3 linked regions of the Homo sapiens genome follow. The protein of the gene in region 2 purifies or fractionates together with the protein of the main gene of each other region. This does not show direct contact. Each region holds a gene or a part of one and is shown on either strand. Other genes may lie near its edges.

What was found.
Region 1: the proteins of ILDR1 (region 2) and HECW1 purify together in Homo sapiens (affinity purification with mass spectrometry; one large-scale study listed by BioGRID and IntAct). This does not show direct contact.
Region 3: the proteins of ILDR1 (region 2) and FBP1 purify together in Homo sapiens (affinity purification with mass spectrometry; one large-scale study listed by BioGRID and IntAct). This does not show direct contact.

What each region holds. Positions count from the first base shown.
Region 1 is NC_000007.14:43,444,569-43,448,222, forward strand, and holds part of HECW1 (E3 ubiquitin-protein ligase HECW1), read left to right. Parts: coding exon 1-1,002; intron 1,003-3,654. UniProt on the Homo sapiens protein: E3 ubiquitin-protein ligase that mediates ubiquitination and subsequent degradation of DVL1. Also targets the mutant SOD1 protein involved in familial amyotrophic lateral sclerosis (FALS).
Region 2 is NC_000003.12:122,012,196-122,015,849, forward strand, and holds part of ILDR1 (immunoglobulin-like domain-containing receptor 1 isoform 1 precursor), read right to left. Parts: intron 1-3,654. UniProt on the Homo sapiens protein: Maintains epithelial barrier function by recruiting MARVELD2/tricellulin to tricellular tight junctions (tTJs).
Region 3 is NC_000009.12:94,615,518-94,619,171, forward strand, and holds part of FBP1 (fructose-1,6-bisphosphatase 1), read right to left. Parts: intron 2,344-3,654; coding exon 2,251-2,343; intron 1-2,250. UniProt on the Homo sapiens protein: Catalyzes the hydrolysis of fructose 1,6-bisphosphate to fructose 6-phosphate in the presence of divalent cations, acting as a rate-limiting enzyme in gluconeogenesis. Plays a role in regulating glucose sensing and insulin secretion of pancreatic beta-cells.

The sequences.
Region 1 (3,654 bases), on a different chromosome or scaffold from region 2:
AGGAGGCATCAGCACTGCTGCTGGAAGACGGTGAAGCCCCAGCCAGCACCAAGGAGGAGCCCTTGGAGGAGGAAGCAACGACCCAGAGCCGGGCTGGAAGGGAAGAAGAGGAGAAGGAGCAGGAGGAGGAGGGAGATGTGTCTACCCTGGAGCAGGGAGAGGGCAGGCTGCAGCTGCGGGCCTCGGTGAAGAGAAAAAGCAGGCCCTGCTCCTTGCCTGTGTCCGAGCTGGAGACGGTGATCGCGTCAGCCTGCGGGGACCCCGAGACCCCGCGGACACACTACATCCGCATCCACACCCTGCTGCACAGCATGCCCTCCGCCCAGGGCGGCAGCGCGGCAGAGGAGGAGGACGGCGCGGAGGAGGAGTCCACCCTCAAGGACTCCTCGGAGAAGGATGGGCTCAGCGAGGTGGACACGGTGGCCGCTGACCCGTCTGCCCTGGAAGAGGACAGAGAAGAGCCCGAGGGGGCTACTCCAGGCACGGCGCACCCTGGCCACTCCGGGGGCCACTTCCCCAGCCTGGCCAATGGCGCGGCCCAGGATGGCGACACGCACCCCAGCACCGGGAGCGAGAGCGACTCCAGCCCCAGGCAAGGCGGGGACCACAGTTGCGAGGGCTGTGACGCGTCCTGCTGCAGCCCCTCGTGCTACAGCTCCTCGTGCTACAGCACGTCCTGCTACAGCAGCTCGTGCTACAGCGCCTCGTGCTACAGCCCCTCCTGCTACAACGGCAACAGGTTCGCCAGCCACACGCGCTTCTCCTCCGTGGACAGCGCCAAGATCTCCGAGAGCACGGTCTTCTCCTCGCAAGACGACGAGGAGGAGGAGAACAGCGCGTTCGAGTCGGTACCCGACTCCATGCAGAGCCCTGAGCTGGACCCGGAGTCCACGAACGGCGCTGGGCCGTGGCAAGACGAGCTGGCCGCCCCTAGCGGGCACGTGGAAAGAAGCCCGGAAGGTCTGGAATCCCCCGTGGCAGGTCCAAGCAATCGGAGAGAAGGTTAGACCTCAAACCTGATCAGAGTGAGAATAGGACCATCAGGGGGACAAAGGTGTCACCAACAGTTTAAAAACAAGAAGGGCGGGGGATCGGTGTCAAACGGGGTTGCTGGGGCAATGTATGCCTGTCTTGTATATACATGTGTGCATGTGTATCTGTGTATGAGCATAGATGACTGTGAGTAGCTGACACCCCACAATGTCTCAGATACACACCAGGAATTACGACTGGTTGGATGTGAGCGTGCACTTGTATGTGTGCTTCTATGTTTGTTTTAACTAATCACCAGAACTGGTTAGTGTACATGTTATCCTAGTCTTAACAGCAGCCAGAGCCCCAAGACTAGTATCAAATGATATACATGGGAAAAATCTATCTACATTAAATGGATAATGTGTAAATATCTGCTGACTTTCAAAGCACATGGAAGATTAGCAATAGATGTTAATATTAGTTGAAGAACAGATTTTACCTCTGTTTTAGAATTCAACTAGCCCATGTACGTACATATAGATATGTCTAGCCTACATATATTTGTCATTATTTATGTCCACTCAATTCTTGTTATTACTGTTGGTTTTGTTTTGTTGTTGTTGTTGTTGTTGTTGGCTATTTTGGCTAATGGAAGGGAAAAATAACATGATTGTGTATAAATGACTTTGTTTCCAATAAGAATCAAATCCAAAAGCTGCCACCATTAGTTTTAAAACGTATTCTGTGTTTTAACCAAAGATGTTCTTTCTTAGTCATGCCTGTGGAATTATATGTGAAATTAATTTGCATTTCCTTATCCAGGAGTGGAAACTGTCTTCCAGTCAAGTGACAGTGGTATGACTGGGAAAAAAAATTGAAAAGTCACATAATAATATGAAATAATTCAGTTGTTTTAAAAGAGAAAAACATAGCCTCTGCTATTTTGCTGTTCTGCTGTTGAAATTAGCCTCCAACAAAAGGCGGGGATATTTTCTCTAGATTGTAAGCTCATCAAGGGCCAGAGTTGTGTTTCTTTATGTTTGAATTCTTAGCACCTAAACAAACCCCTGGTGCCTACAAATTTTTTTTTTAACAGGAGCTAAAGTGAGCATTAAAAAAAATAATTTTAAGTATTCAATAATGCCCGCTTCTACATTTCAGAAAAAGAGTGAGAGAAGGTGGCACATGCAATAATGAGAAACGCAAGGAAATTGGTAGAGAAAAAGAAACACAGGCAGAAAGGTAAAACAGACAGCATGGAAAGGTACCCACAAGGAGCGGGATGGAAAATCCCTCCTGTGAGTAGAAGGGAATGGGAAATGCCTTTCTTTCACAAGGATGTTTCGAGGACTTCCTTTATTCTAGGCCAGATGTAATGCACTGGGCGCAGGAAGATGGAGTGGCATCAGGTGATGTATGGACATTACTCGATAATTACAGCATAATTAAAATAATACAACAAAAGGAGATTGGGGGATTCCCACATAAAAGGCACACATAGGAGCTGGCAGGGATGTTGGGTTACAGAGGTCTGTAGATTTTTCCTGTGAAGAGCCAGATAGTAAATACTTTAGGCTTTGTGGGTCAAGAGGTAAAAAGCTAAATAACTGTTCTCACTAAAAAGCTTTTTTTTTTTGTATTAAAAAGTGTACTGACACTTTTCTTAGCTCAGAGCCATACAACCCTGTTTTAGTGCACAGTTTTTTGGCCCCCATGTTGGGAGATAATCTACACATGGTCAATTGAAACTTGGCTCAATGTAAATTTATATAAGATCATGTTTTACAAACAAAAAAGTCACATCCTTGCCCTTTAGAGGCCAACAGTCTAGCAGGTGGAAGAGCAGGAAGTGTTTCAGGGTCACAGTGGACATCTCTGAATTGGCACTGGCAGTTTCTAAAGAAATATCTAAGTTCCTGAACTCTGCAGAGTGTAAACTCAGAAAAGGTTAAGAAGCACCTACATGCTTCACTATGGCGATCACAAGGGGAAATAAAAAGATTCCCGAGGGGTCTCTTGATCTGCTGAAGGCCATGCACACGCTGGCATGTGACTTCTTCCCAGCCATCCTTCCCCGCCTCAGCAGTGAGTCCCCAGGCTAACCGTGTCTGCATTGTGGGACTGTCCTTCACTTGCCACCAGGCTTCACAACAGCAGATGCTTCAAGAAAGCAGGGCTTTAACATGACCTGCCTGATACGTGATTGTGTGGGTGACCTCTGCTTCCATAAAAATCCCTATTGCTCCTTCGCCTTGACTTCTAAGATTGCAAATTCCTTTACTGTAGAAACTGCATTAGACGGCTGGGTGTGTGGGCTCACGCCTGTAATCCCAGCACTTTGGGAGGCCGAGGTGGGTGGATTGCCTGAGGTCAGGAGTTCAAGACCAGCCTGGCCAACAGGGTGAAACCCTGTCTCTACTAAAAAAAAAAAAATACAAAATATTAGCTGGGCACGGTGGCGGGCACCTGTAATCTCAGCTACTTGGGAGGCTGAGGCAGGAGAATCACTTGAACCCAGGAGGCAGAGGTTGCAGTGAGCTGAGATCGTGCCATTGCACTCCCAACTGGGCAACAAGAGCAGAACTCTGTCTCAAAAAAAAAGAGAGAGAGAAAAAAAAACTGCATTAGATTAACCCAGGTGGATTTGTTGTCCACGTGCCCACATAGATAAGGCTGCAA
Region 2 (3,654 bases):
AAGGACCCAAAGCAGCAAATCAGGCTGAAAATGTGAACAGGATCAAAAAAGAGAAACGTCCTGATTGTAGTCATCCTGGTTGCAACTTTGCTCTTTCAGGCTTACTACAAGTTTTCAAATTCTTAATTTTTTTTCTATTCTTAAAATTCCTTTATCCTGTGGAATTTTCTCCTCCCCAGTTCATTGACTCCTCATTTCCTAGCTGTCTCTATCATTTTCTCTCAAAAATGTTAATTCTAGAACCTGACTCCCTGAGTTCAGATTCTGTCTCCAATCCCTAACAGCTGAATGGTAATGTAATATAAACAGCAGTTTATTAAACACTCTAGTCAACATTAGTTGCTGGGGGTCAGAAAAGGGAATTTGGTTAGAGTCAGAAGTTGACCTAGCAAGTTATTTCCAAACTATTGTTTTCCTTTGTATGCAAAACTGAGATGAAGATAATACCTGCCTCAGAGGGTTGTGGTGAGCATAAAAAAATGTCCCCCATTTAGCAAAGAGCCTGGCACATATAGACATTCAACAAACCTAAGCTATCATTTGTATCATTTGTACTTATCTTGACTACTTCAGGAGTTCCAGATCCACTGAGACTAGCATGTAAAAGCATTTTGAAAAAATGATACAAATGTAAACTATCATGATTGTCTTCTCTTTGCAAAATGAGTTGGTGCCTCAAAAGCTTCAAAAGTTTCATAGCTTTGTACCCTGGTGGACTCATTCACAGCTTGCCAGGCTCTGTGAAAGAAGGGAAGGAGACCTGTCACATGGGTAGAAAGGAAACTTCAGATGAGATATCAGAGCTCATGGGAAGGAGAGAAGGGGAAGGGGATTCTCTGATTCCCGCCATCAGGTACTTTCCAAGGCCAGGCTGCTGTGCTGAGTGGGGACTACCATCCTACACTAAAACAGAAGGAAACACACCAACCAGGGCAGAGTATCTTTACAACTAAATGTCATCTGTTCCTAAATACATGCACATCTTTGCACATTTTTTTATTCCTCATTTCCTGTGTAGTATTAGATTTGGCAAGAAGGAGTTTTAGTTTGTAGAAGATACTCACACAGTATAGGAATACAGGTATATATTTTAAAATATTTTTAAAATTAAGAACTATTTTGAAGGACTAGATGGCACTTCCCCTCCTTTCCTATGAACAGGCCTGCTTGGAAGGGATGGTAGGCAGGAGGGTGAAGGCAGGTCTTTGCCGGCAAGGGGCAGTGGCCTGGGACTGACAGGAATTGATTCCTGAGTGTTTTTCAGGTATACAAGCACCCTGACTCCATGTGGCAGGTTAACAAAATGCACACAGGTTCAATGCTATCAGAGTTTATGGCTGAGCAGGCTATCTCACCAAGCATATTTACCATCAGTGCCTGTTACATTTCCTCAGATAACAGTGCAAATATGAGCGGAATCAAGGAGAAGAGGGACTAGCTATGAACAAGAAGGAGCAAGACAAGAAGTGACTAGCTATGGACAAGAAGAGACAAAGACAAGAGGGAGTGGTCACGAACAAGAAGGAAAGGATAGGGAGAGCAGAGAGAGGAGACCAGGAAAGCAGATGGGTGGGGAGCGGAATGATGTCTAGGTACTGTGTGTTTACCCAAGGTCTGGCATGCAACACTTAACAGTGCAGCACCCCGAGAAGGAAAGTGCTATGTGCTGAGCACTTACTATGTTGTTTGACACGGTATTGGGTGTTTTATTATACATTATCTCATTTAACCTTTGCAAGAAACTGATGAGATAAGCTTTACTTTCTCTCAATTTCATTGATGAGGAAAATTCTGAGAGATTAAGTAATCTGCTTAAGGCCACACAGCTAGAAAGTAGCAAAGCTGGATTTAAGCTTAGACCTCCACTACACTACCATGTCTTCTGGATAAGTTTTCTAAATGGTTGAGATTTAACCCTTTGAGGAATATTCACGCACTTAAGGGACATTCACAAATTTATTTTAATCATTTTGTACAGAAGCTCTTCTTCCTTTTTGTTTGTTAATACAAAATAAATAAGTGAGAAACTTCAAACAGTGGAGGGGGTATCAAGTAAAAAGTTCCTCCTTGCTCACCATGAATTCCACTTTCCAGAGGTACTGCTGTTGACAATTTGGTCTACATCCCTTCACATCTTTTCCTATGTTGTTTTTTTTAAATTAATCATATTATGTACATTGATTTGTGACTTTTTCTTCAAACTAATGATATATTGTATATCAGTATATGCAGATCTATTTTTTTTTAGTAACTGCATGAACATTTCACTCCATCAATGAGCCACTTTTATTTACACATTTTCCAAATTATGGACATTTAGGTTGTTTCTGACTTTTAAGTATTATAAGCAATGCTGGCATTAATTACTGAAATGAATATGATTATATAAGTACGTCTTCACATGCGTTCTTTTATTCCAGTAGAATATATATCTCAAAGTGAGTTAAAGGGAATAAACCTTTTCTATTCGAATAGATACTTCAGGAAAGAAATGTATATTCCCATAAATAGCCAGTGACAGTCCCATGTTTCACCACAACCTATTCAAAAGAGGAAAATATCAATCTTTAAATTTTTTTTTGATAAACTACTAAGTGAAATAAATAGCCACTCAGGTGGTTTGAACTTAACATCCTTTTGGTTACCGGGGGAGAGGCCAAGACCTGGTTGAGGGGCAGATGCTTGGGGTTTCCCAAAGTCATTCACCCAGGTTAGTGACTCATGTCTCCACACACTAATCTCAGAGCACATGCAAATTTAGGCATGACCAGAACACACACATTCATTCATTTATTGAGTACACACTCTGAGCCAGTCATTAGTAGAAAATAAGAGATACAGGTCCCTGCACTCTTGGAACTTGTGCTCCTGGTAGGAGAGTCAATGATAAACAAGTAAACACACAGACAAAGTAGTTCCTGTCATGGATGAGTTTTAAAGCATTGATCAGAAACTACGAGAGCATTGAATATTAAATCTTACTCCTGTACAATAAGGGACTAAAACAGACACATGTATCCAAATGCTCCTGATAGTTCTTCTTGGTTGTTTCAAGTTCTAAATCAAGCCCAAAATCTAAATCATCATCCTTCCATACAAACTTGGGCCTCTCCCACATTTCCCATCTCAGTGAATGGAAAAGACCAAAAACTAGGAAGGAATCATCCTGGTATCTTTTTTTCCTTTGCTCTTCATATACAGTCTGACATGGTTTGGCTGTGTCCCCACCCAAATCTCATCTTGAATTGTAGTTCCCATAATCCATATGTGTTGTTGGAGGGACCAGGTGGAGATAATTGAATCTTGGGGTGGTTTCCCCATTCTATTTTCATGATAGTGAGTTCTCACAAGATCCAGTGGTTTTATAAGGAGCTTCCCCCTTCACTGGGCAATCATTTCTCCTGCCACCATGTGAAGAAGGACATGTTTGCTTCCCCTTCTGCCATGATTATAAGTTTCCTGAGGCCTCCCCAGCCCTGCAGAACTGTAAGTGAATTAAACCTCTTTCCTTTATAAATTATGCAATCTCAGGCAGTTCTTTATAGCAGCATGAGAACGGACTAATACACAGTCTACAATCAGATTGGGCTTATTTATCGCCGAAATATTTCCAGAATCTCTCTCTCTCTCCAATTTCACTACTATCCTAGCACA
Region 3 (3,654 bases), on a different chromosome or scaffold from region 2:
TTTGATATTTTGCAAGGAAAATTGCATTCTTCCATGTCTACAACAGAAATGGTATGTTCCTTGGCATGACTTGGAAAATGGATAAATTGTTGCCTTTTTGCCTTTCTAGTATGAGAATTTGAATCTTCTATTCCTCAAACTGATTGTGATGTGGATCTGCCTCTTACCCAAGATAAAAAGCAAAATACGTTCCAATGACCAAAGATAACTGTGCCATGGGGGCTCTACTTTTCACATATTTGAAAGGAAATTATGTATAATACTAGACAATAAGTCACTTTTAGAGATAAAGTGCAAATTTGGGTCTCAGTTCTTTTTTTTTTTTTTTGAGACGGAGTCTAGCTCTGTCACCCGGACTGGAGTCCAGTAGCGCGATCTTGGCTCACTGCAACCTCCACCTCCCAGGTTCATGCCATTCTCCTGCCTCAGCCTCCTGAGTACCTGGGACTACAGGCGCCCGCCACCATGCCCAGTTAATTTTTTGTAATTTTTAGTAGAGACGGGGTTTCACCGTGTTAGCCAGGATGGTCTCAATCTCCTGACCTCATGATCCGCCCACCTCGGCCTCCCAAAGTGCTGGGATTACAGGCGTGAGCCATCTCGCTAGGCCAAGGGTCTCAGTTCTTAAGTTAATGCCTTTGTGTCCTAGAACAGAGTTCAGCTGAACCAACCTCTTCAGTCGATTCCAGCCTGTGAGGTTTCAGTTCTGAAATAAACAAGAGCTGAATATAGAATGGTATGGTAGACTTTGGAGACTTAGAAGGGGGTGATGGGAGGGGATGAGGGATAAAAAAACTGCATATTGGATACAATATATACTATTCTCGTGAGGTATAAACTAAAATCTCAGACTTCACCACTATACAATTCATTCATGTCACCAAAAACTATTTGTACCCCCCAAAGCTGTTAAAACTATATATATATATACTTTTTTTTTTGAGACGGAGTCTTGTTCTGTTGCCCAGGCTGGAGTGCAGTGGTGTGATCTCGGCTCACTGCAACCTCCACCTCCCAGGTTCAAGCGATTCTCCTGCCTCAGCCTCCCGGGACTACAGGCGCCCACCACCATGCCTGGCTGTTTTTTTGTATTTTTAGTAGAGACGGGGTTTCACAGTGTTAGCCAAGGCAGTCTCAATCTCCTGACCTTGTGATCCACCCACCTCGGCCTCCCAAAGTGCTGGGATTACAGGCGTGAGCCACCGCATCCGGCCTAAAATATATACTTTGAAAAAATAAAACAAAACAAGAGCTAAAGCTAAGAGGATGTACCTTGGATTTTATCATGTTTCCTGATGGGTGGATGGGTTTTCATTCTATTTTTCACTTATTCGTATAATTGAGCACCTCTCCCTCTCCCTCTCCTCCCTCTCCTCCTCCTCCTCCCTCTCCTCTCTCTCCTCTCTCTCTCTCTCTTTCTCTCTCTCTCTCTCTCTCAGAAAAAGCAGCTCTGGAGGAGGGGTGACTGCCCGAGTCAGGTGTTAGGAGACCCGAGCAGGGCTGGATTCTCATCCTATGCTGTGTGCTTTCTACGACTTAGAGCAAAGCTCAGTAAACTGTTTCTACAGACAGACAGATAGTAAATTTTTCAGTTTTATGGGCCATACAGTCTCTATCATAACTACAAAACTTTGACAGTGCAGCAGAGAATCAGCCAAAGGCAGTATGTGAAAAAATGAATGTGACCAAATGCCAATTAAAGCTTCATTCGTGAAGAGTAAAACTTAAAATGGATCACGAAACTTTGTTCTTTAGTTTTTTTCAACTATTTAAAAATGTAAAAATGGTTATTCTTTGTTCACAGGCTGTACACATTAGGCCACAGGCTGGACTCAGCCCGGGGCTCATAGCTTATAGACCATTGACTAGGGGACTTAAAGGACAGTTTTGACATAGTCTCTATTGTTGTCTTACACTCTCAACTCTGAGTTCACATCGTATCATCACTATACTTACCCTCTACTGCCTCTTTTTTAAATCTCATTTTCTATCATAAAAAGTAAGACATAGTAAAAAGAGTGAAATATCCTTCTCTTCCCACCCATATTTTACCCTATATTCTCTTTCAACAATCTAGTGGGTCTTCGTCATGCAATTAGTGCTGAAAAGCTCAGAACTTGAGATACAAATCTACTTCAGTCTCACAGTTTCATGATCTCCACTCCGGCTGCTCTGCCACAGTGAAATAGGACTGGATGCTCAATCTTAACTTCTGTCCCCAAACCAAGTGCTTAAGATATCACGTTTTACCTTTCTATAGATGCCAAAAATGGTTCCAACGGACACAAGGCAATCGATGTTGGAAGATCCATCAAGGGGATCAAAACAGACCACATATTTACCCTGAGCACAGAAAAAAGAAATACAACCTTAAAATGTTATAGCAAGATACACTAAAGGAGTATACATTAGGGGCTAAGAATGGGAATTTAGAAGAAAGTTCAAAAAATGTGGGTCTTATTTATTTGTACTGTCATGGAAGGCATGAGATGGCATACAGAATGCACAGATACACACACATACACACAAGACCATTAAACAGAGAAAATACCACTTAAGAGGTGCAGATGAAGGTAATGGAATACAGATAAGTCATGATTTCCTATATTGTTGATATAATCAAATCATAATTTTGCATTGAGTTTCCTGGCAGCCAAAGGAAAAAGAAGGTTAGTCACTCATTTTCCTTTATTTGTAAGGAAAAAAATAATTCCTTAGGTGAAGCAGAGACTTTGCTAGGGTTGAGATCTATAAGAAACTTCTCATGGAGGTCTTACAGATGCCCCTTGAGGTTGGGGTGCATAGAGTTTTCAAAAATATCCTGGCTGGGCACGGTGGCTCATGCCTAATCCTAGCACTTTGGGAGGCTAAGACAGGAGGATTGCTTGAGCCCAGGAGTTTGAGACCAGCCTGGGCAGCATAGAGAGACTCCTTCTGTAAAAAAAAAAAAAAAAAAAAAAAAAAAAAAAAAAATTCAATTAGCTGGGCATGATGCTGCACATCTGTAGTCCCAGCTACTCAGGAGGCTGAGACAGGAGGTATCACTTGAGCCAGGAGTTCGAGGCTGCAGTGAGCCATGACTGTGCACTCCAGTCTGGGTGACAGAATGAGGCCCTGTCTCTAAAAACAAAACTAAACAAAACAAATTTCTAGCGTAATTCCCAAAGTAGATAACTTTCAGTGGTAGTGGGAATACCGCAGATTCCTGTTTTGAGTGGGATTTTCAGTGGTGTGCAGGAGCTGGCTGGTATCGGCTCTCAGGAGCTAACGGTGCACATCTCTTCCCAACTCTGCCTTCAGTGATATCACATTGGTAGCTTAAAATCAACGATGGGAGAGTATTCACACCATTGACAGAGGCAAGTGGACATATCAGAGACTTGTTTGTTTGCTTTGAGACCCAGTTTACCAGCACATCACTGGGAGTTTTCCATCTCCAAATTAGCCACTTTACAATGTCGTTTTTAAATGTCTGTAGCAGATTAACATGATTCCCTGCCCTCTTGCTCTTCACAGACCACCCTCACTAATGCAGGAGGAACTGGAAACTGGAACACAGGAAGCTGCCTATCATGAAGGCCCATGATAGACAAGAGAAGTCCGGCGTGAGTGATGGAGAATATTAAACAACAAATCTAAGCCATACGCCTAAAG